Linked DNA regions of Homo sapiens: region 2 is linked to region 1. Evidence: fine-mapped expression QTL. A gene starts in region 1. The other region holds a variant in brackets. All regions are shown on one strand. Distances are between the middles of the regions.

The links. PIP is the estimated chance that this variant, and not a neighbour inherited with it, causes the effect.
Region 2: its variant is the best candidate, but not a certain one, in a credible set for the expression of TMEM74 in left ventricle (GTEx, PIP 0.88).

The regions. Positions count from the first base shown.
Region 1 is chr8:108,782,534-108,793,053 of GRCh38, reverse strand. TMEM74 (transmembrane protein 74) reads left to right here and starts at 5,460. Exons shown (of 2, transcript NM_153015.3): 1 at 5,460-5,578; 2 at 7,917-10,520. The coding sequence starts at 7,956. The coding sequence ends at 8,873. RefSeq lists silencers at 5,345-5,524, 5,940-6,234.
Region 2 is chr8:108,758,701-108,769,220 of GRCh38, reverse strand. All of the region lies in intron 1 of LOC102723368 (a long non-coding RNA gene), which reads left to right. It also overlaps a transcript of TMEM74 not described here. Among named protein-coding and RNA genes, the nearest start is that of TMEM74, 24 kb to the left of the region's middle. The variant A/G (reference allele first, on the strand shown) is at 5,232.

The DNA.
Region 1 (10,520 bases):
TAAGTTTAATTATAAAGGAAATCTGTGGCCTAAAGACAACAGGGCCTTTATGCAACCAACAGACCCAAATCCTTCTACCAATGTCCAATATTCTCCCCATATTGTGCTTTCTAAAGGTGTCATAAAGTTTATATACAAAATATTAGACATGAAATGTTTCCATATTTCTTATTTTGAGATATCAGTGCCCAGATTACTTTAAATCCTAATGTTGTAAGCGTTTCGGGAGAATCTGAATAGCATACCTTTGTACACTCCTCACCCTGCCATGCATAGCAAGATGCCAGGTGAAGGTAAGTCAGAGAAAACTATCTTCAGGTTCTTCTTAAGGTAAAACAGAACGCTTAGATTTTGATATAAACCCTTAATGCAGAGATTGCAAATTAGGTGTTTGGAACCTGAATCCACTCCAACAGCTGAATCCAATCCAACAGCTTTTTATCATGAACAACTGCATATAGAAAAGTACATGAAATAAAGAGGGTTACCTCCGATAATTTAGCTCAAAGAGAACACCCTTGTAAACACATCCGGGTCAAGAAATAGTGCCAGGTCTCAGAAGCCTCCCCTTTAGTCTTCTCAGAATCACTACTCTTTTCTTCCCTTACAAAGGCAACCTACCTCTTGACATTTATGGTAACTGCATTCTTGCTTTTCTTTATTGTTTTGCTAACATCTCCAAATACTTTGGTATAGTTTGCCTCTTAACTAACTAAATATCAATGAAATTATGTAATAGAACTGCACATTGTGTATTTTTTAGTGGCTAGCTTCTTTTCTTGAGTTTTATTGTTGTGTTTTTAATATTCATATTTATTAATTTTATCCTGAAGGTACACATGGTGTTGGATCAGAAACAGATGATTTACTTAAGAGCAAATAATGACCATGCGGTCCTCTGGATCCCAATTCTTACCCTTGGCACAACACAGTGAAAGCCAGGTCAGATGTCCTAGGCGTACAAACTTTGAAGTCTGTATCACAGATGAGAAACAAGAGAAAAAAATAATTTAGTGTGTTTACATACAGAAGCAAGAGAAAACTATCTTTTCCACCCCTCCCCAAAAGATAGAAAAAAAAAATCTTTGCTCCTTGGATGCAATAATTTTGGGTTCTCTAAATGTTTCAAATATAAATACATTTCTTCAAAGCCAAATGCAGTGAGTAGGTCTAAATTACCTAGTCTATTACTACGGGAAACAAATGTTCCCAATAATTTTTTTTTTCTCTGACTCATTAAGGGTTTAAAATACATTGAATTTTGAATAACAAATTGTGATATCTGACTTTCATTAATGTCTAAATTCACTTAAGACAAAACTCAGGTAGAACAGTTAGGGGATACTGCCCCTTTTGGGAAAGGCACTTGCTCTTAACTTCGGTAATCTTCCCCATCCCTATTGTCTGTATTCAGCCACTTTATTTAAGTAACATGCCTACTTGGCCACTGTAAGCATTCTTATTAAATGGAAACCTTTCTAATTTAATGCTTTTTTTTGTTCCTAGAATCTTGTTCATTAACAAGATCTTCATTCTCTAAATTATGGTCACCTTCATTCTTAGCACCAGTATGGGGTATAGGACCATATTCCTCATGCTATCCCTATTCAATGACTGATCCTCCCTCCAGCCTATTCCAAAAATGTCTTTCTTACTTCTCTAGGACCCAGCCTCTCATAATAATAACTCCACTAATAATCCCTTAATAGTCCACTAATCAGCCCTTATTATTATTACTGAAGAAAAAGAAACTGGAACACATCCTCAGTAATTATTACAAGAGGCTGGTTGTTAAAAGTCCCAGCACTACCCTTGATTTACATGGTAAATTTACTTCTCAGAATTTTTCTTATTTTTCAACTAGTTAACTTAGTGTAGTAACGATTGCTCCTCTCACATGAAACGGAGTATAAGTAAACAGGAAAATGTGAGACATTAAAATTAGAGTAAGACCAAAATCATTATGTAGATTTCTAGATAACATTTTACAACTGTGAATTGTTTTATCAGCATATATTGAGGAACTACTGTTGCCTATGTGTCGCACTATTTCATGCCCACATATAGCTTCAAAGAAATAGAAAGAATATGTTGGTTCTCAAGGAGCTTAAATTTTATCTGGAGAGATCACATAGAAAGCACTATAAAATATACATGAAATACTTTTCTATATCTAAAATAACAGCATAAAAGAAAGCATATTATGCTACTAGAAAGCCAGTTAGAAAGGTAACGATAAGTTGAGGACGTTGAACAAGAAAGGCTTTTGAAAAAGGTTCTTGGGTCAATTTTCAGGAAAGTTTTAGACATAGACTTATGAGAGAGGGGGAAAGTATTCCAGCAAGTGGCAATTTTTGCAGAGCTTTTATTTTCAAGTGCTCAATTGGTTCATCTCTATTTTTTGTCAGCAGACTTTTAAAGGGGATTTTGTGGTGTTGGTTGGAATTGATATATTTTTAATGCTCAAGAATATGTAGACAGTCAAGTATTATTATAGGTAATCATCTCGAGTCTTCAGTTCAGTCTTGACATCTTCCCTCTCAACAGAAATACTGCACTTTCTGCAGGAGGTAAGGTGTTCAGCATGTAGATGCTGACCTTAAGGAGTTTATGATTGATTACCTTAGAGATTTAGGCACCTAAGTGAGAAGTTAAACCACATGCAGTGGCTACCTAGCCATTCCAGAAATGTCGTAAAGCAGTGGATGATAAATATCAAAAACACCAGTACTGACAAGTCCCAGCAAAGTTCACAGGAGGTGTAATCCTTGGAAGAAAAAGGCTTCAGGGAAAAAAAAAAAGTAACTTAAAATCAGTTCAGCCTGGGAATCACAGAGGTCCTCTAATCCAACTAGATGAATCCCTTCTATGAAATCACTAATAAATGGCTCTCCTTTTTTTTTTTAATCCTCACCAGTACCAGAGAATTTGCTTTCATGAGACATCAATTTAAAAGTTTTAGAAATAATGTCCTTCCTTATACAAAGTCTCAAATCAGCCTCCTTCTTAAATTTAATAGTGCTATCCAGAGCTTCTCAGATCAGTGCTTTGGCATCCTCCAGCACTCCAGTGTGTCACAGGTGTGCTGACTTATTTATTTCCTTAGCCCTCCAAGCTGTCCTGCAGAGACTGAAGTACCCACAGCCCCAGAACTATGGCCATGAGAAACCTCCTGTGTTTATCACATTGCCATAAATAGTATCACCTCTTATGTGTACTCTGCTGTAAAAAAGATTGTGAAGCATTGCTCAGTATAATGTGTTGGCAAAGAGATCAAGTCTCTGGAATCACACAGACCCAAGTTAGAACCTTAGCTCTGCCCGATATTAGTTTTCAGGCCTTGGAAAAGAAACTACATCTTTTCAAGCCTCAATTTCTACATTGCAAAATGGGTGCAATAATACTGCCTCCCTTGTGAAGTTGGTGTAAAAATTAAAGATGATAACATAATAGCACTAACAAAAAAGTATTATTGTTATTTGTTCTGCTTTTACCCTTTTAAATATACTATAGAATTCTTCTTCTATTTTTAGAAACTTCAGAATATTTGAAGCTAGTTTATTGTTTCCTCTCAGTATTCTCCTATGGCTAAATAGCCTAAGTTCCTAAGTTTTTCCTCGTCAACATAAATTCAAGTTCCTTCTACATCTTAGTTTCTCTCTTTATTTCTTTTTGCATATGTAGTACTAAGAACTGGATGCATCCCTGTAGATTTGGCTTGACAAACTAGTCCTTGAAGTGTGGATGGAATAGGGCAGTGGAGGAAAGATATTCATGCTGGAGAACCGTGTAGTAAGCAAAGGAGAAGTCATAATACATCTGTCATGTTTATCAACAAATGGGCCTCACTGGCTACAAATATAATCATATGGGGGAAAAAGAATTTTAAAGAGGGAGCATTGTGAACTCCTGTAATCATGTGACTATAGATTCTATCCAATGTAATGAAATACCAACATAATTGTCATTAAAGGAGATAGATCTCTCTTTTGAAAGCAAGCAACCACAGTATTTATGTGAGCTACAAGCACAATGTCATAATACATACTATAATCCCTAATCCCTTTTTTCTTTTTTTCTTTTTTTTTTTTTTGAGACGGAGTCTTGCTTTGTCGCCAGGCTGGAGTGGTGCAGTGGCACGATCTCTGCTCACTGCAACCTCCGCCTCCGGCTTCAAGCGATTCCCCTGCCTCAGCCTCCTGAGTAGCTGGGAGTACAGGCACGCGCCACCACGCCCGGCTAATTTTTTCTATTTTAGTAGAGACGGGGTTTCACCATGTTGGCCAGGATGGTCTCGATTTTCTGACCTCGTGATCTGCCCGCCTCGGCCTCCCAAATTGCTGGCATTACTGGCGTGAGCCATCGTGCCCAGCCCATCCATACTATAATCCTTTTTTGCTCCCCTAGAATTGTCCCAACAGGATGCTGGAAAACTGGAGATTATCTGCAAGCTACACATACCCTGGGCTTTCAGTGGCTGTTGGCTATTGCAGTCCACTCTGGTTGAAAGAGGCTGGTGACACAGTTACCTTGTCCTATCCTAAGAGTCACAACTCAGAAGATTCAACCTTCAGATTTCCTTTATTCCTGAGCCCTTTTATTCTGGCCTTCTGGTCTTTCTTCCATTCATTCCATATAGCATAACGCTTAGAATCTGTTGGTGTTCATCCCCCCCCCCCCACCTCTGCTAAGTATTAGTTGTGTGACATTGGGCAAATTATTCTACTTTGTAACTCAGTTTTGCCTTCTGTTAAAATGAGGATTTTTTTTTACAGTACTTTAACAATAAATTGTGACCATTAAATGAGATAATGTATCTATAGTGCTTAGAAGAGAGCCTGGCAATAATAAGCGCTATTTATGTTAACTGTTATTTTGAGTCATTATTATTCATACATTCAACGAATACCACTGTGCTAAATACAGGGGATGTGTTGGTACATCGGACAATCTCTTACCCCTTATGGTCATATTTCTTCTGATTTTGTGAGACACGCAATGACTTTCGAATCTGACTCCTGGATGCAATTTCAGAAGCTGCTGTTGGTAACTGTGGATGAGGCACTTACCCTCTCTGAGCCTGTTTCCACATCTGTAAAATGAGGATTAATAAAATCTACTTGGAAGATTTGTTTTGACTATTAAAAAGACAAAATATGCAAATTATCTGGCACATTTGAAGTCGAATATACTTTCCTTTTCACAGTCTTGTGGCCACACCTGAGGCTAGGGAACTCCACTCTAGGCTTAGAAAACAGTGCTGTCTTCTTAAGTGCTGGGGAGGAGTAAGAGGGTATGGCGGGAACTCATCTGCAGGAAGGGTAAAACCCAGAAGGCGTGGGAGGAGACAGAGACAGGAGGGATGCAGGGACCGCCCCTGGCCTACAACTCCCGGGATGCTCCGGGAGCGCCCCGCCCCGCCCCACCCCGCCCGCCGTGGCGGGCGCTGCCCACCCGGCGGAGCCGAGCGGCGTGCAGAGGCTACAAGTGCCGTAGCTGGTGATTGGGGGACTTTCTCCGGGAACCGTGCCGGGAGAGCGCGCGGTGCTGGAGCCGCACCGGGTGGCCGAAGCAGAAGGTGAGTGGCGGGGAGTGGGATGGGGTGGAGGCTTTGAATGCAAGGGTGAGAGCCCTGGAGCCTAGCAGAGCTGGAGCGCATATCCCCGCTCTCTCTCCTTCGTCTCCGAGTACTAGGCGGACACATCCGTACCTCGAATGCCTCAGTGGGCGCAGAGTTCACCAGAAATGGATAGCCGGATTCCTCGGCGCCTGCTGGGGGCACCGCTGCCAGGTGCTTGGGGCTCGCTCTCCCGGCTTTGCTCGCACAGGGCGCATCCAGAGGTCGCCTCCCCGAGATCAGCCTTGCCTGTGTCAGTTTAAAGCAAATATTAATGCTTTTAATTGATGACAGATGGACGAGGGAAAGTGCGTGTCCCCTCGCTTTAAGGTGCAATGTCGTTAACTGGGCTTTTAAGCAGATCAGAGGAAAAAGAGGGAGAGGACGGAAGAAAAGAGTCTTTAGCTGGTCCCCTGGGATTATCCATTCTCCACTGAGAATGGAAACCCCGGATTAGGGAGCTGCAAAGGAAATCGACTGTGCTGCTAGCATACCTCCGGTAGAACAAGCGAACAAGCGGGAGTAGCTTTTCTTTAAAGAGAGGTAGAGGCGGCCGTAGGGAATTAAGTGGGGATTTCTCTCTTCTTTTGTTATAAACTGAAAGTCTCAAAGAACCCTGCTGATTTTATCCAAGGTAGGCTAGTGTGATGAGTTAATGGTACCAAAGGTTAATCAGAGCCCCTAATGCCTGAGAAAACTGGAAGAAGAGTTATCGGTAATTGATGAAGCCTGTTACCATCACTTCATTCATTGAGGGATCCTTTAGTGGGGGTTTGTTCTAGTTTAGTAGTGATTCTTTTGCCCTGTTGTTTTTTGCTGTTTTCACTGTAGAGAAACTCCGATAACAGGAGAAAAACGTTTTCTGTTTTGCTTTTTTTGTTTTGTTTTAAACAAACTCTTAGGTGTAGCAGAAAACATGTCAATTCCCTCTCCCATATTTTGAGTTGCCAGGTTGACCTTAGGTGACCCTTGCCTGTGTTTCTGTTACCAGCTTTGGAGCTGTGGATTTTGAATTATAAGAAGCCTCAAGCCGTTGGGTTAAATCAATTATCACCCTGGATTTGGAAGCAAAATAAAAGGAGCCTTTGGTTAAAATCTCTAATGATAGTGGAAAGTGAATTTTTATTCCTTAGAAACATGGCAGAGGCAGAGAAAAGCCGATGGTTTTCTGCTCAAACCAAAGTTCTCTCCCAGAAATGCCCCTTGCTGCAGTCGGGGGTGAGGAGTGACATGTTTATAAAATTACAGAGGTAACCTTGGAAATAGCTTCTCACCTATTTGTCTCCACAGAACTCTTACTCTGTGGGTTTATAGTTTGTCTTTTATTATCAGTTCACTTCTAGATTGGGTTTGTAAAACTATCCAGATGGTCAATTTCTTGTGCATTGTGTGATAGCAAAGCATGCAGAGAGGGAGGAACACAGACCCAGGGAACGGGAGTAGCAGATCCTGCAGCTGGAGCAGGCAGGTGTGTGTGTGGAGGAGTGGGTTGGCCCATTGTATTTTGCAGGGATTGCCGTAAGGTCTGTTGCCTGTATGCTTTGGGGTCCAGAACATGCTTCCCCCATGGAGCAGTGAGGGAATAGGGCTAAGTGGAAGCACAGTGAATAAGCAGCATATGGTCTTGTAAATACAGGGCTGTGTCACTAGGGTCATTGGATGTATGAGGTGTAAGCTTAGCAGAGGTGGCTGATTAAGCTGGCCTTTTTCATCTACTTCAGAGCTATGGAATCAAAATGCTGAGTTCCTGCCCAGCTGATAGGGGTGTATAGTCATTCACTGATGGTGATGCTCCAAAGCTAATCTGTATTAGAATTTGCTCTGAACTAGGGAGAGTGTAAACACTTACAATCTTACTGAATTAACAAGTCTATGCTTCCCCAAGTCCTCCAGAAAATCGGCAGCTCTGCTAAAAAGGGCTCTTGCCTTTCTCATTTGTCTTTTTACAGGAAACTTGCCTTCTCGTTTGAGGGATCCTTTTGCAGGAATGCGCGAGTCCTTGAATAAATTTGGCTTGGTGACGGCAGTATTCTTTCTCAGTAGACACTGCCACTTCCTCCACGCACCTTTCTACCCTGACTTAAGTTTCTCAGTGTTAATCACTATGACAAGTGAGAGCATTTGTCCCTTCCACACTTTCCTGCCACTAGGTATCCCCTCCCTTCTTTTGCCTGTTTGAGGTGGAAAAGGGGCTAAACAGGTGCAGCTGTGAAGGAAATGGGGACCCCAGGAGCAACACTCCTGGAAGTACAACCTTAGCTTCTGTTGGGTTCTTATCTAACTCTGTTGCTATTGGCAGACTTTCCGGAAGCTGCTGGGGGATGTCTGACTAGCTCTCATGGAGCTCCACTACCTTGCTAAGAAGAGCAACCAGGCAGACCTCTGTGATGCCAGGGACTGGAGTTCAAGAGGGCTGCCTGGTGACCAGGCAGATACAGCAGCCACAAGAGCTGCTCTCTGCTGTCAGAAACAGTGTGCATCCACCCCAAGAGCAACCGAGATGGAAGGGTCTAAACTTAGTTCTTCTCCAGCATCCCCCTCCTCCTCTCTGCAAAACAGTACTCTTCAGCCAGATGCCTTTCCACCAGGACTTCTCCACTCAGGGAACAACCAAATAACAGCGGAACGGAAAGTCTGTAACTGCTGCAGCCAGGAATTAGAAACTTCTTTTACCTATGTGGACAAAAACATCAACTTGGAGCAGCGGAACCGGAGCTCGCCATCAGCAAAAGGGCATAATCACCCTGGGGAGCTTGGCTGGGAAAATCCAAATGAGTGGTCCCAAGAGGCTGCCATATCTTTGATATCTGAAGAGGAGGATGATACAAGTTCAGAAGCCACGTCTTCAGGGAAGTCTATAGACTATGGTTTCATCAGCGCCATCTTGTTCTTGGTCACTGGGATCCTGCTCGTGATCATCTCTTACATCGTCCCACGGGAAGTGACTGTGGACCCCAACACTGTGGCAGCCCGGGAGATGGAGCGCCTGGAGAAGGAGAGTGCGAGGCTGGGGGCTCACCTGGACCGCTGTGTGATTGCGGGGCTCTGCCTCCTCACGCTGGGGGGCGTCATCCTGTCCTGCTTGTTAATGATGTCCATGTGGAAGGGGGAGCTCTATCGTCGAAACAGATTTGCCTCTTCCAAAGAGTCTGCAAAACTCTATGGTTCTTTCAACTTCAGGATGAAAACCAGCACGAATGAAAACACTCTGGAACTGTCCTTGGTAGAGGAAGATGCGCTTGCTGTACAGAGTTAATTCTGGTTGTGAATATCTTGAGAGTCTGCCTTGGCATTTTATAATATGAAAAAAGTTAATTTATAAAAATTCACAGTGCAATTTATTTGCCTGGCAAGAAAAGTTTATTTCACAAACCAACAGCCAGTAAGTGTTTTTGTTCTCTATGTGTCTTCTATTTAGAAGAAAAGCCATGTAAGATGTATAAGAAACCACAACCAGCCACACCTATCCTTCTGAAGAGCTGAAGGCTAATTAATCTGTAATGGCCAAGAACTTCTACTTCGATAGAAAAATATTTCTAATGACCCAGTCTACAAATTATTTCTTTTACACAAATATATGATGTTATTCTTTGGACACTAGGTGGTCCTACACACAGTAGGATCAATTGCTAATCTACTTTGTGAAAAAGAACTAAGCACTAATCAATAATAAGGCTTACATCTAATTCTCAAAGGTGCTTATCCATTTTCTTGCTAAATTATCCTTCTTGTAATTTGGCTAAACACTAAAACATGGAATTTTTAGTTTGAATATTTTGAAGTTTGAGGATGTTGGGCTTTCCTTATTGTAAAAAATGTTATGTTTGAAATTATTCCTGTTTTCAAAAATGGTAATTAAGTCATTAGGATAAACTTTCTAATAAAAAAAAATTATGTAAATCATTGTAAGACCAATGTGAATTTAAACCACAGTGTTGGTGCCAGATATTAGCCAGGGTCACAGGCTCTTTTTTAAAATGAAGTCAAATTAGTTACTGATATAAGTTTTATATTTTGTGATTTTGCCATCATACTGGTTATCTGTGCTCTTGAAGTCTGCTGGTTCTCACACCAGCAGCAAGAGGCAAGGCATGAGACATTTTAAATATATTTCCAGACATCTAAACATCTAGACAGGCCTGAGTCATGATTGGCTCTGGTGTGCTTCCAGGTAACATCTTGTTATTGCTGTTTGGGGAAAACCACCAATAGAATTGCAGCTAGACTTTTGGGGACTGTGCCTCGCAGGCTGTATCACTTGCTGTAGGCCAAGCAACGAGCACTTCCCTCATGGTAGCAACAGTCCTTAAGCCCAAAGCCAAAAAAAAATAAAATGGAAAGAGAGATTCAATACACTGATTTAATGGGGACTGTAGTCATCGTCAGAACTCACCTCCCACTCACAGTGGTCTAGATGTCATTCAGCAACTGTGAACTCTTGCCTCATGCAGCACAAACTCTTCTCTAAGAGCAGCATGATGAGCAAGGTGCTCACTTTGCAAGACACACACTGGGTGTTCACAGTGACAGACCGCCTCATTATGGTGACGGTTCAGAAAAGGGATGGGAAATGCAGCCTCAGAAATACCTTACATTTTGCAACTCTGCCTGGAGGTTTTTCCAACCTGTGCTCTAAGAGTTGTTGTAACTTCCATGATTGTGTTACCAGGATCAGGGGGTCATTCTTAAAAAGAGGACAGGAGCTGGGAATTGGTATGAGACAGCAGGAATGAGGAAGTAAGAAAGTGATTTCTTTGCAGATTTTTAAAGGCTATTTCAAATGTCTGAAGTTTGTGGTGTTGTGGACAACTGTGGAATACATGGGTGACTTTGGCAAAATGTGTGAATCAGGATATTTATGTGGATGAGCTCTCATGGGTGTCAGATTGATTTGATGAGTGAG
Region 2 (10,520 bases), 24 kb after region 1:
GAGTAGCTGGGAATACAGGCACAACACACACCATGCCCAGATTTTTTTTTTTTTTTTAGTAGTAGTAGTAACCTACTACTACTAAAAATAGTGTTTCACCATGTTGGCCAGGCTGGTCTTGAACTCACGACCTCAAGTGATCCACCCACCTCGGCCTCCCAAAGTGCTAGGATTATAGGCGTGAGCCTCCATGCCCTGCCTCACGTGACATTTTTAATATTAAGCTGTTCCCTCTTCCAAATTGTTCTGTATATTTTCTCTCAATATCTTCAAACCTTGCATACAAGTCAGTCATACGTAACAGCCTCAGGTCAAAGGGTCCATGGGAAATTTAAGGATAAGACATGGAAAAGAAGGCATGCCCCTTGGAATTACCCTTCTACTGAGGTCTACTTGGCAAAGGTGACAGCAGTTGAGGGAGATGGTTGTTCTAGAATTCCATGATCCTTAGGGAAACAGGTGAAGGTTTGAGCCAGACCTGAGAGCAGCAGGTAGGAGCTGATGGTAGCAGAAAAGCGGACCCTCATATGCACTGGCTCACTTTCAGTTTTTCCCAGACCTACCAGAGGAAGGTGGGAATTGAAGAGAGTTGTGCTATGACAGGGGAGGGAAACGCGGGTGTGAAAGTCTACAACACTTGGGTTACAGGAGGAGCTGGTGGTATTGCTGTCAGAGACAACACCTATGTATGTCATGATTATATAAATTGAATTTTTCTGTAGATAATGCAAGAGCTACTCATTTTTTTAAAATGAAAGTAGCATAATCAGATTTTAATGTTAGAAAGAACACTCAGATGATAGGATCGAGAAGAGATTGGAAAAGTAGGTGAGGATAGTTGGGAAGATTAGGAAGGGTCCAGAGATAAATAATAAATTAGGATGTCGAAGAGAGAAACCAAGAGGAGGCAATAAATTAGTCATTTCAAAGATCAAATCAATAAAGTTGATGGTTAATTTGAATGGGGTGGAGCAGTGAAGGAAATTGCTTGAATTATTAGTCACTAGCCAAGGTATGGAAAGCTTAGGAAAAAGCACAAGATTTAATGGGAAGGATATGTTGAGTTTGAGGTCTGTGGGGAACACTTAAGTGAAGATGGCTAATGGTCAGTGGAAGTATGGGTCTGGAGAACTGGAGTAAGGCTGGGCTTATTTATGATATAAAGCTTTGTGACAATATTCTCTCAGCCCAAAATTGGGATCCAGAGTTTTTCCGATTTCCAATGGCCAGTGAATTTATTTTCATGAAATTTTTACAAATACATGTGGAAGCGTATCATTTGATTTCAACTAATCTTCTTTGAGTAAAAGAATAAAGCCACTTGAAATCAAAATGTCCCTGAAAAAAAACGGTATATGGTCACTATATTTATACCTCATCTGTTTCAAAAAGAATTGATGTAATTGAGATGTTAGACCAAAGCTTAATAATAAAAAATATTAATTAGAAATTGATAAGAAAGAGAAGAAAATATAAGTAACTAGATCCCTGAAATTAGTCAATAACCCCAATACAAGTTTAAGTTAACTTGAGATTTCTGTTAAAATTAAGAAGGGGTGAAGAATATTTGATCAAAGTTACAAAGTATTTGATAAAAATGAAGGTCAGTATTAATTTAGGGAGAGAAACACTTCTTGACACAAAATTCTATGGAGAATTTGTCACACAGATCTGTATATAAAGGACACTGAGCAACAGTGAAAAATGGTTTTACCAAAGCTACAGAAATGTTCTCAAAATGGATCCTTCCTATATTGACCCTATTTAAAAGCTAAAGACATAATATTGAGTCCAAAGGGAAGATACTTTTTTTCAGAAAACTAAGATACCACGGCTCAAGTAGGTTGCTTTTTGATGATAATTAAAGGAATGGGGCCAGAAATCTTTTGAGGATTGGATAGTGAACATGTTTTGCTAATGCTCACATCTTAAATATTTTGAAGCAAGCTTCTGACAAAATTGCTGAATCTCTACTCTTTTGTTGTTGAATTCTCTGATGAGTGTTTAGGTTTTTGACATTCTGTGTATAGATGAAAGGAAATTTCAAATTCTTCAGGTTTCAGACTGTGATGGTTAATATTGAGTGTCAACTTGACCGGATTGAAGGATGCAAAGTATTATTCCAGGATGCGTCTGTGAGGGTGTTGCCAAAGGAGATTAACATTTGAGTCAGTGGACTGGGAGTGGTAGACCTACCCTCAATCTGGGTGGGTACCGTGTAATCAGCTGCCAATGCAGCTATAATAAAGCAGGCAGGAGAAGATGGAAGAGCAGACTTGCTGAGTATTCCGGCCTTCATCTTTCTCCTGTGCTAGACTCTTCCTGCCCTCAAACATCACACTCCAACTTCTTCAGCTTTTGGACTTTTGGACTTACACCAGTGGTTTGCCACGGGGCTTTTGGGCCTTTGGCCACAGACTGAAAGCTGCGCTGGCGGCTTCCCTACTTCTGAGGTTTTGGGACTCGGACTGATCACCACTGGCTTCCTTGCACCTCAACTTGCAGACAGCCTACTGTGAGACTTTACCTTGCGATTGTGTGAGTCCATTTTCCTTAATAAACTCCCTTTCATATATACATGTATCCTATTTGTTCTTCCCACTAGAGAACCCTGACTAATGCAAAGACCTATGGGAGAAGAGTTGAGGCTCTATTGTGAAAGTTTTGGAGGCACATTTTATGGTGGCCCACGTGGAAGACCTTACCATGTTTCCATGAATGAGGGCCTCTACAAATTTTGTAAAGGTCCTTCTAACTTGGAAAATTACTTTGAATCTATTTAATCCCTTACAGAATTTTACCACTGAAGGTTAAAGAATATAATTTTGGCTTGGAAACTTCAATAATTTGTCATCCCAGCCAAAAAAGCAAACTCTTTATTGCCTCTACAAAGAACATTCCCATGAACCCATAAGATCCAAATGAAATAACTCAATACTTCAGCTCTCTTTTGATTAGTTAAAAAGAGAGAGACAGAGAGAGAAAGAAAGAAGAAAGGAAGGAAGGAAGGAAGGAAGGAAAGGAGAAATAACCCCCAAATTAATAATATAATAATAAAGTTATCCCTCATTGCTGCTTTCACTGGACACCTTCAAATATGATCTCTTTTAAAATCCTGCTGGATGAGGTCATTTAACCATACCTATTTAAATATTAGGGAATACCAGTAAATGCAAGTATTTTCATTGTTAATTAGATTATGCTAATGCTACTGAAAATAATCTGCCGATATACTTTTTGCTTTTTCCAAAGCTCTGATATGAACAAAACAGTTTGGTTCTTACACACTTTTTTTTTCACATTTAGAGAGAAAGCCTCCCCCAATAAGAAAAATTTGTCAAAATGCTTATGAGCACTTTAGATTTAGATAAGGATACATCATTCCATTTATTGTATGTAAGTATAATAATTTAGGACAATATGTACAGTCAATCTGTTTAAAAATTGTCTCTATAAATTGTTAAGTATGTGATAAATCTTGAGCTGTTATTAACGTTAAAAGTAACTAAAGATGGCCAGGTGCAGTAGCTCACACCTGTACTCCCAGCACTTTGGGAGGCTGGGAGGGTGGATCACTTGAGGTCAGGAGTTTGAGACCAGCCTGGCCATCATGGTGAAACCCCATCTCTACTAAACATACAAAAAATTAGCCGGGTGTGGTACCACGTGCCTGTAATCCCAAGCTACTTGGGAGGCTAAGGCAGGAGAATTACTTGAACCCAGGAGATGGAGGTTGCAGTGAGCTGAGATTACATCACTGTACTCCAGCCTGGGTAACAGAGTGAGACTCCATCTAAAAAAAAAAAAAAAAAAGTAGTTCCAAACTGCTAAGACCTTAGTTAGGTTGTGTTGCCTATGGGGTCCCCAAGCTCATCACCATCCCTTAAAGTCCAGGATGATGGAAGCCTCTCAGAATCTTGACTAAAAATTCCAGTATCACTGACAGTGAGAGCAGAGAGTACTCTAAGTAAGGCAGGTTTGTCAGACCTGAACCTCTTTTCTCAGAATTGTCTAAATTCTGATCACCAGTTCAAACCTGGAACTCAGTGCCAAGGTCTTTAGTGTAGAAACAGCAAATGTGCACCTATGCACCTATTTCTTACACCTATTTCCAACCACAAGTTAATCAAGCACAGAGAATGTGTTGAAGTTGTGTGCCTGAAAATGATAACCACATTGACTTGATAGGCTGAAAACGGAAGGGGAAGAGACTAGAAGGCCCAGACACATCAGAGCCCTAAAAATGTGATATAGCGAGTGGATGAAGACTGATAAACTCAGCTTCATTGAGTTCTTATGGATTTTCTGCAGCTGGATAATGAGGCAGAGAGTTCATATCTGGCGAAACTGGGACTAATCTTATTCCTTAAGTTGCCTACGAGAGTAAAGAATGTTTTTAAAGACCAGATACAAGCATTTTTAGCAGCCAGCAAATTGTAAGTGGAGATAAGACAGAGTGGATGAGCTGGAAGAAGAGCTATCCTTCCTTGAATAGCAGTTCAAGCTCATATTCCCTCTGTCACCATTCAGACATGACCTCCGCCAGCTGAGCCTAATGCACAACCGCAGCATAAAGAAATACTGTCTCTTAGAATGGCATGCAGCAGGAAGAGGCAGGGCCTTTTGTCTCAAACCAACTTGTGCATACAGAGGAATAAGGTATTATCCTCATCTTAAACTCAAAGCACTCTCTATTTCAGAACAGGAAAAAAATGTACATGGCATCCAGGAATTTACTCTTTTATTTAATCTCATTCTCCTGCTTATCAGTTATTACCAGAACTTTATTCTCACCTTTTTAACCCTTCCTTTCCCTTTATCCCTCTAGGAAAGACACATTTTTAATCATTGACAAATGTTTGAGGTTTTTGTTTGTTTTAGTTTTAGTGTTTGTTTGTTTAGTCCTGACTATAGAACATGTCCAGCCTGTTGAAATTCTATCAAAGCTCTAAGGCTTACAGATGCCACCTGCACTGTTAACTTAGTCTTTCTTCTCCCATTGCTTGCAGTTGGTATGCCATTGCTGTAAATTAGACTGAATCTGCCATTGAGACATCCTCTCCTTTATCTTGTTTGTGTTGTGGAGATAAGAGATAAATTGAATGCCCCAAGTGAAATGCTATCAAGTTTTCCCTCTATGTGTAGAAATGGCAGTTTCTGAAGGCTCACTTATTCTCAGAACTTCCACCCTCTAGAGTTGATACAAAAGGAAAAAAAGGAGGTAAAAATCC[A/G]TGTTTACTAATTGTTTTCCCACTGGGAGGCTTTTCACTAACTCTTTTACTTTCTTTTCCAAAATACTGTTATGTCAAGCTGTGTGCATGAAAGAATGATTAAATAATCAGAAACCTGTAATATTAAAAGTTGGAAGAATTTTTGTTTAATCCTGAGACTATGCAAATTGTCAGTAAGCCTATACCAGGCTGAGGAATAACTCTGGAGATTGTTATAATTTCTCAAATCAAGAATGCTTTTAATTCAGATATGGAATTTCACTAATTAAAATAAGAATACCAGTAAAATAATTAGATCTTTTACTAGAGAGGTGCCTTGCACATCTGCTTTGTGCTAAGTGCTGACATATGTTTACTTATTACTCTAAACACCATAATGAAGGGCAGACATTCTTACCCAAGGTATAAATTAATACTTCTTGGTGGTATTCATGGTCATTCCCAAATAATCTAAACCACAGATACTAAATTCAAATGCCAAGCGTCAATTGTTTCTTTTATGTTATTTATAATATCTCCAAAATTGGTGAATATTACAGTTGAATTGTATTTTAAACATACGAGTACTATGCAAACTATTTCATGCCTAGGTTTGTGTTTATATGGCTAAATCTCAGGAAAAGATTTTTAGTGCTTTAGAGGCACAGTTAACATTTTTCAGAATTACTTAAAATTCATTCATCTCTTTGCCTTTACCTCCTTGGGTTCTGTTTTCCCTTGTGTCTGACTCACAACATCTACTTTATGTGGGATGGTCTAAGGCATAATAGATGGGAATGTTACAATGGGGAAAAGGGTTGGTTTCCTGAACTTATCAATGGGAAGAGAGGAAAGGTTTAATTGGGATTCAGCCAGATGCATGGGATAATTCATTCCATGAAATATGGATTAGATGAACATAAAGAAATATGGGAATGACTGTGGAAAGGTAAAATAAAAGAAAACAATTTGGAGGAAATTTATTCTTATGTGTGCTTTCATTTATTTAATAATTTTTATTGATTGCTAAATTCTAGAGATTTTGCTAAGCAATGGAATATAAAGGTAAACAAAGCAAAACTAGAAGCTACCTGTCCTCAAGGAGTTTTTTGTTTTGTTTTGTTTTGTTTTTAAATATGAGGAGGTCTCACTTCATTGCCCGGCCTGGCCTCAAACTTCTGGTCTCAAGCAATTCTCCCGCTTCTCCCACCTCAGCCTCCTGAGTAGCAGAGATTATAAGTGCATACCACTATGCCTTCTATTAAATTTGGATCTAGTAGAGGAGACAGGTATGAATCAAATAATTACATAAGAGTACCATTCGAATTAATGATAGGTACAAGAAAGGAAAAAGATGGGGAGATATGAGAATGTATCATGGGGAAAAAGTATATATAAGGAAATGATGTTGGAGCTGAGACCTGAAGCTTGACTGGTGACAAGATAAATGCTGTTGGTCATTGAATTTTGACACATTCAAGGTAGGTTCTACCCATGGGGCTGAGTTCAAAATCCCTGAATACTTACGACAGATAAACAAAGGAACTGAAAACAGGAACACATTAAGAAATTACACAAAATGAGGAGCTGACATTAAGTCCTAAGCCTGCATATTACTAACTGTGCTTTGAGGATTTTCAGCTTATTCATGAGAATCAGCTATTTGTCCTTAAGAGAAGGCATGAAATAATTCAGAGTATTTTCTTTAGGTCACAGGAAACCCAGCATGTTGGAAGCTGGAATCCATCATGTCAAAGTGTATTATATATTTGTATTATTTGAATCTCTGAAATGTTAGTTAGGTGCAATTGGAGAAATGGAGATGATAGTCTATGCCAAGTTTATTTGTGGGCAAAGAGGCTTTCATTCATGAAGCACAGTTGTTTCTGCCTCAAAATCTTATTGAAGATGATGTCTATCCTGTCAACTTTGGCCTCTGGTGTTAATAGCAGGAAGAATGAAACACTATTAAATTATTTCTAAACTTCGCTGGATTGAATTCTGATCAGCTCAGAAGTGTAAGAGGGATTGCATTAGGTGGAGAAAGAGTCTTTAAGGGTCTTTATTCCAAAACCTTACAGGAGGGCTCCAAGCCCTGTGGCGGGTCTGTTTTGTGTTGTGACTTGATAGCAAATCACAGTGTTTGACGAATTTTTTTGGAACAGAGAGCTATTTGTATATTTTTTGTAATAAACCCTTGAAATATATTTCATAAGGGAATTGCCTAGCTTTTTGAAAGATTGGTTGATGTTATAAATGTCCTCACGCAAGGACTAAAGAGAGAAGAAAAAACTCAGTTATACCACCCAGAAGAGCATTAAAGCTGCATTTTATTTGGACAGATAGGAGAATAGGAAGAGGGTAACATATTTTTGCCTGTGGCTTCTCTGAACAAAGACCTTGGATATGAGACTATCCATCTCCAGCCTCAGATGATTTTCCTGAACACGAATAAGAGGCTCAGTTTAGAGCCTGTTAAAATATCCTCTCTAATAAGATGGAAACTGCATCTTTGTTTCAGACATGGCCTAGGTACAGAACTGTACCTATGGCTGTCATTTGTAAGGATAAAATAAACAATTTTCATAGATCATTATTAATAAAAGTTTACATGTATTGTAGACTTACTGTGTTTCATCCTCTGTGCAGATCTCTTTATATTGATATTTAATGTTTATAATAACACTATGAGGTAGGTTCTATTTATATGTTGGGGAAACCAAGGTGTAAAGAGATTAGAAAACCTAATGTAAGATCAAGTAAGTGGATAATCCTGGATAGAGCCCACGTTCCTGACTCCTGAAACCATGCTTCTAACCACTATAGTGTACCGCTTTTCATCCCCAGAGTCTAATATTTAGTTTCAGTTATACTGGTGATGTTTAGTGGATTGATGGAGGAACGAATTGATGAACGAATAGAAACCAAAATAAGGTAAATAAATTCAATTAGTTTAATAGATTCTCTTGCAAGGGAAAAATAGAGGGAAATTTAGTAAAAGTAATAAAATTTAACACACACACACACACACACACACTCCAAAACCACTTAAAAAGAACCCCGTACAAGAGGAGAACACTGCAATTAGAGGAGGCCCTTTTAACTGACAGAGTCAGCCAGCAATGACCCAATCCCAGAGCAAACAAATCATCTCTTTTCCCTTCTGCCTGGCAGATTGGCTTCAGTGTTGAACCAGTAAAAGCTTGGGGTTGTAGCACTCACAGGTTCACTATAGATCATGGTGTAGGGTTACATCGCTGTACCCTCTCCAGGTAATGACACCCTTGGCTAAGGCTCACATCAGACACCAGCTATCAGGCATGACATTGCTACAGCCAGACTACAAAGTGACATGAGAGAATTTTGAAAAAGGGCAAGGGGATAATTGCATCTCTTCCAAGGAGAGCTTCCTGAAGCTCTCCTTGGCAGTCATCCAAGTAAAGCTGAGTTAATGTTGCAGTCAGAGCAAGAACAAGCCACAAGCATTTGCTGCCTCTCACACTCCTGCCAATAGATGCATTCTGTTAAAACTGCACTCAGAACAGGCTTGCTAATAATCGTCAAGCTCTGCTACTGGCAACTCATCTCTTCAGATCGTTTCTGTGCCCAGCACAGCCTCTGTGACCGCGCATTGCTACCCTGGTGCACTTGGCTTTTCAACCCAGATCACCAGTCCCAAGAGACTGGCTGACCCTTGTTCTGCTTCACCTAAGCTGCTGGAAGTTCCACTTGCAATCAAGCAAAAAGGCCTTCAGACCTATTATATGGTCTGTTTGTCAAAGTGCTCTGAATGTCATAGTGGAAGTCTCTCTCTCTCTCTCTCCCTCTCTCTCTCCCTCTCTCTCTCTCTCTCTCTCTCTCCCAGTCTGCAGAACAGTGGCGCAATCCTGCCTCACAGCAACCTCCAACTCCCAGCTTCAAGCGATTCTCTTACCTAAGCCTCCTGAGTAGCTACAACTACAGGCATGTGCCACCACACCTGGCTAATTTTTTGTATTTTTAGTAGAGATGGGTTTCACCATGTTGGCCAGGCTGGTCTTCAACTCCTGACCTCAAGTAATCCACCTGACTCATAGTGGAAGCCTTCTAAGCCATGCTTTACATCATGCATATTAGACGACTGAACTGTGTGAAACTCTTCCTATTACAGGTCAAAATATATAGTGGTTTAACCCAGCACGTTTATCTTACCCATTTTTGTACAAAGCATATACCATGAAATTTAAATCTCATTCCACCTCATTCTCTCAGTTCTCCTCCATAGAAGCATCTGTCTTTAACAATTTATGTAAACTTCCAAATATTTTCATGGATATGCTTACACAGATTTGTTTCTAAGCATATATATTTCTTACACCAATGAGACCACATCTGTGTACATACAGTGCCATTCTTCTTTGCCTTGCTTGTTTTTACTCAGTTTATATCAAGGATCTTTTCTTCTCAGCCATTAGAGAGCTACCCCATTCATTTTGCATATTCACTTTATGGACATATCATTATTTAATCAGTCCCTTTTAAGTTGTTTCAAAAGTTTTGCTATTACAAACATTGCTGCAATACATACCTTTCTATATTTACCTTTTTATTACATCAAATATATTCATAGAATAAATTACTAGAAATATAATTGATGAATAATAGGTATATGCATTTTACGTTTTGATAGATACTGTCAAATTGCCTTCCAAAGACATTGGAATTTACCCTTCCACCAATAGCAGATGAAACAGTTCACTTTTCTTAATACTTAATCCACCCTCACAACTGTTACAGATAATTGTGTTTTTTAAAAAATAAACAAGGCAGTACAGATTAGAATTGTAGCTTATCTTACCCCTCTTCGATCTCATACCCCTTTTTACTTCCATTGAGATTATAGCCATATTAAATTTATTATTCCCACAATTTTTAATACTGTTACTTCTAATACATGGATTTTATGGATGCATTTTACATATGTTATGAATGCTTTATACATTTACTTTAAATAAACACTATATATATTATTTGGACACATGTCTTTAAGCATTATATAAATCATGTAGTATGGTATCGTCATTTGGCAGCTGGATTTCTTAAAAATCACGTTTTATTCCTGGAATTTACCCTTTATCTATATAGCTTTGATTTAGTTTATATTTTTCACTGATATATAGTACGCAGTACCCATTGTAAATGGTGGAATATGCTACCATTTATTTTTCTAACATCCCATTGATGGGAATTTATATTGTTTTATACATTTTTTAAAATATTTTACTGTTATAAACAATATGATAATGAACATTTTGTTCTTCTTTGGTCTGA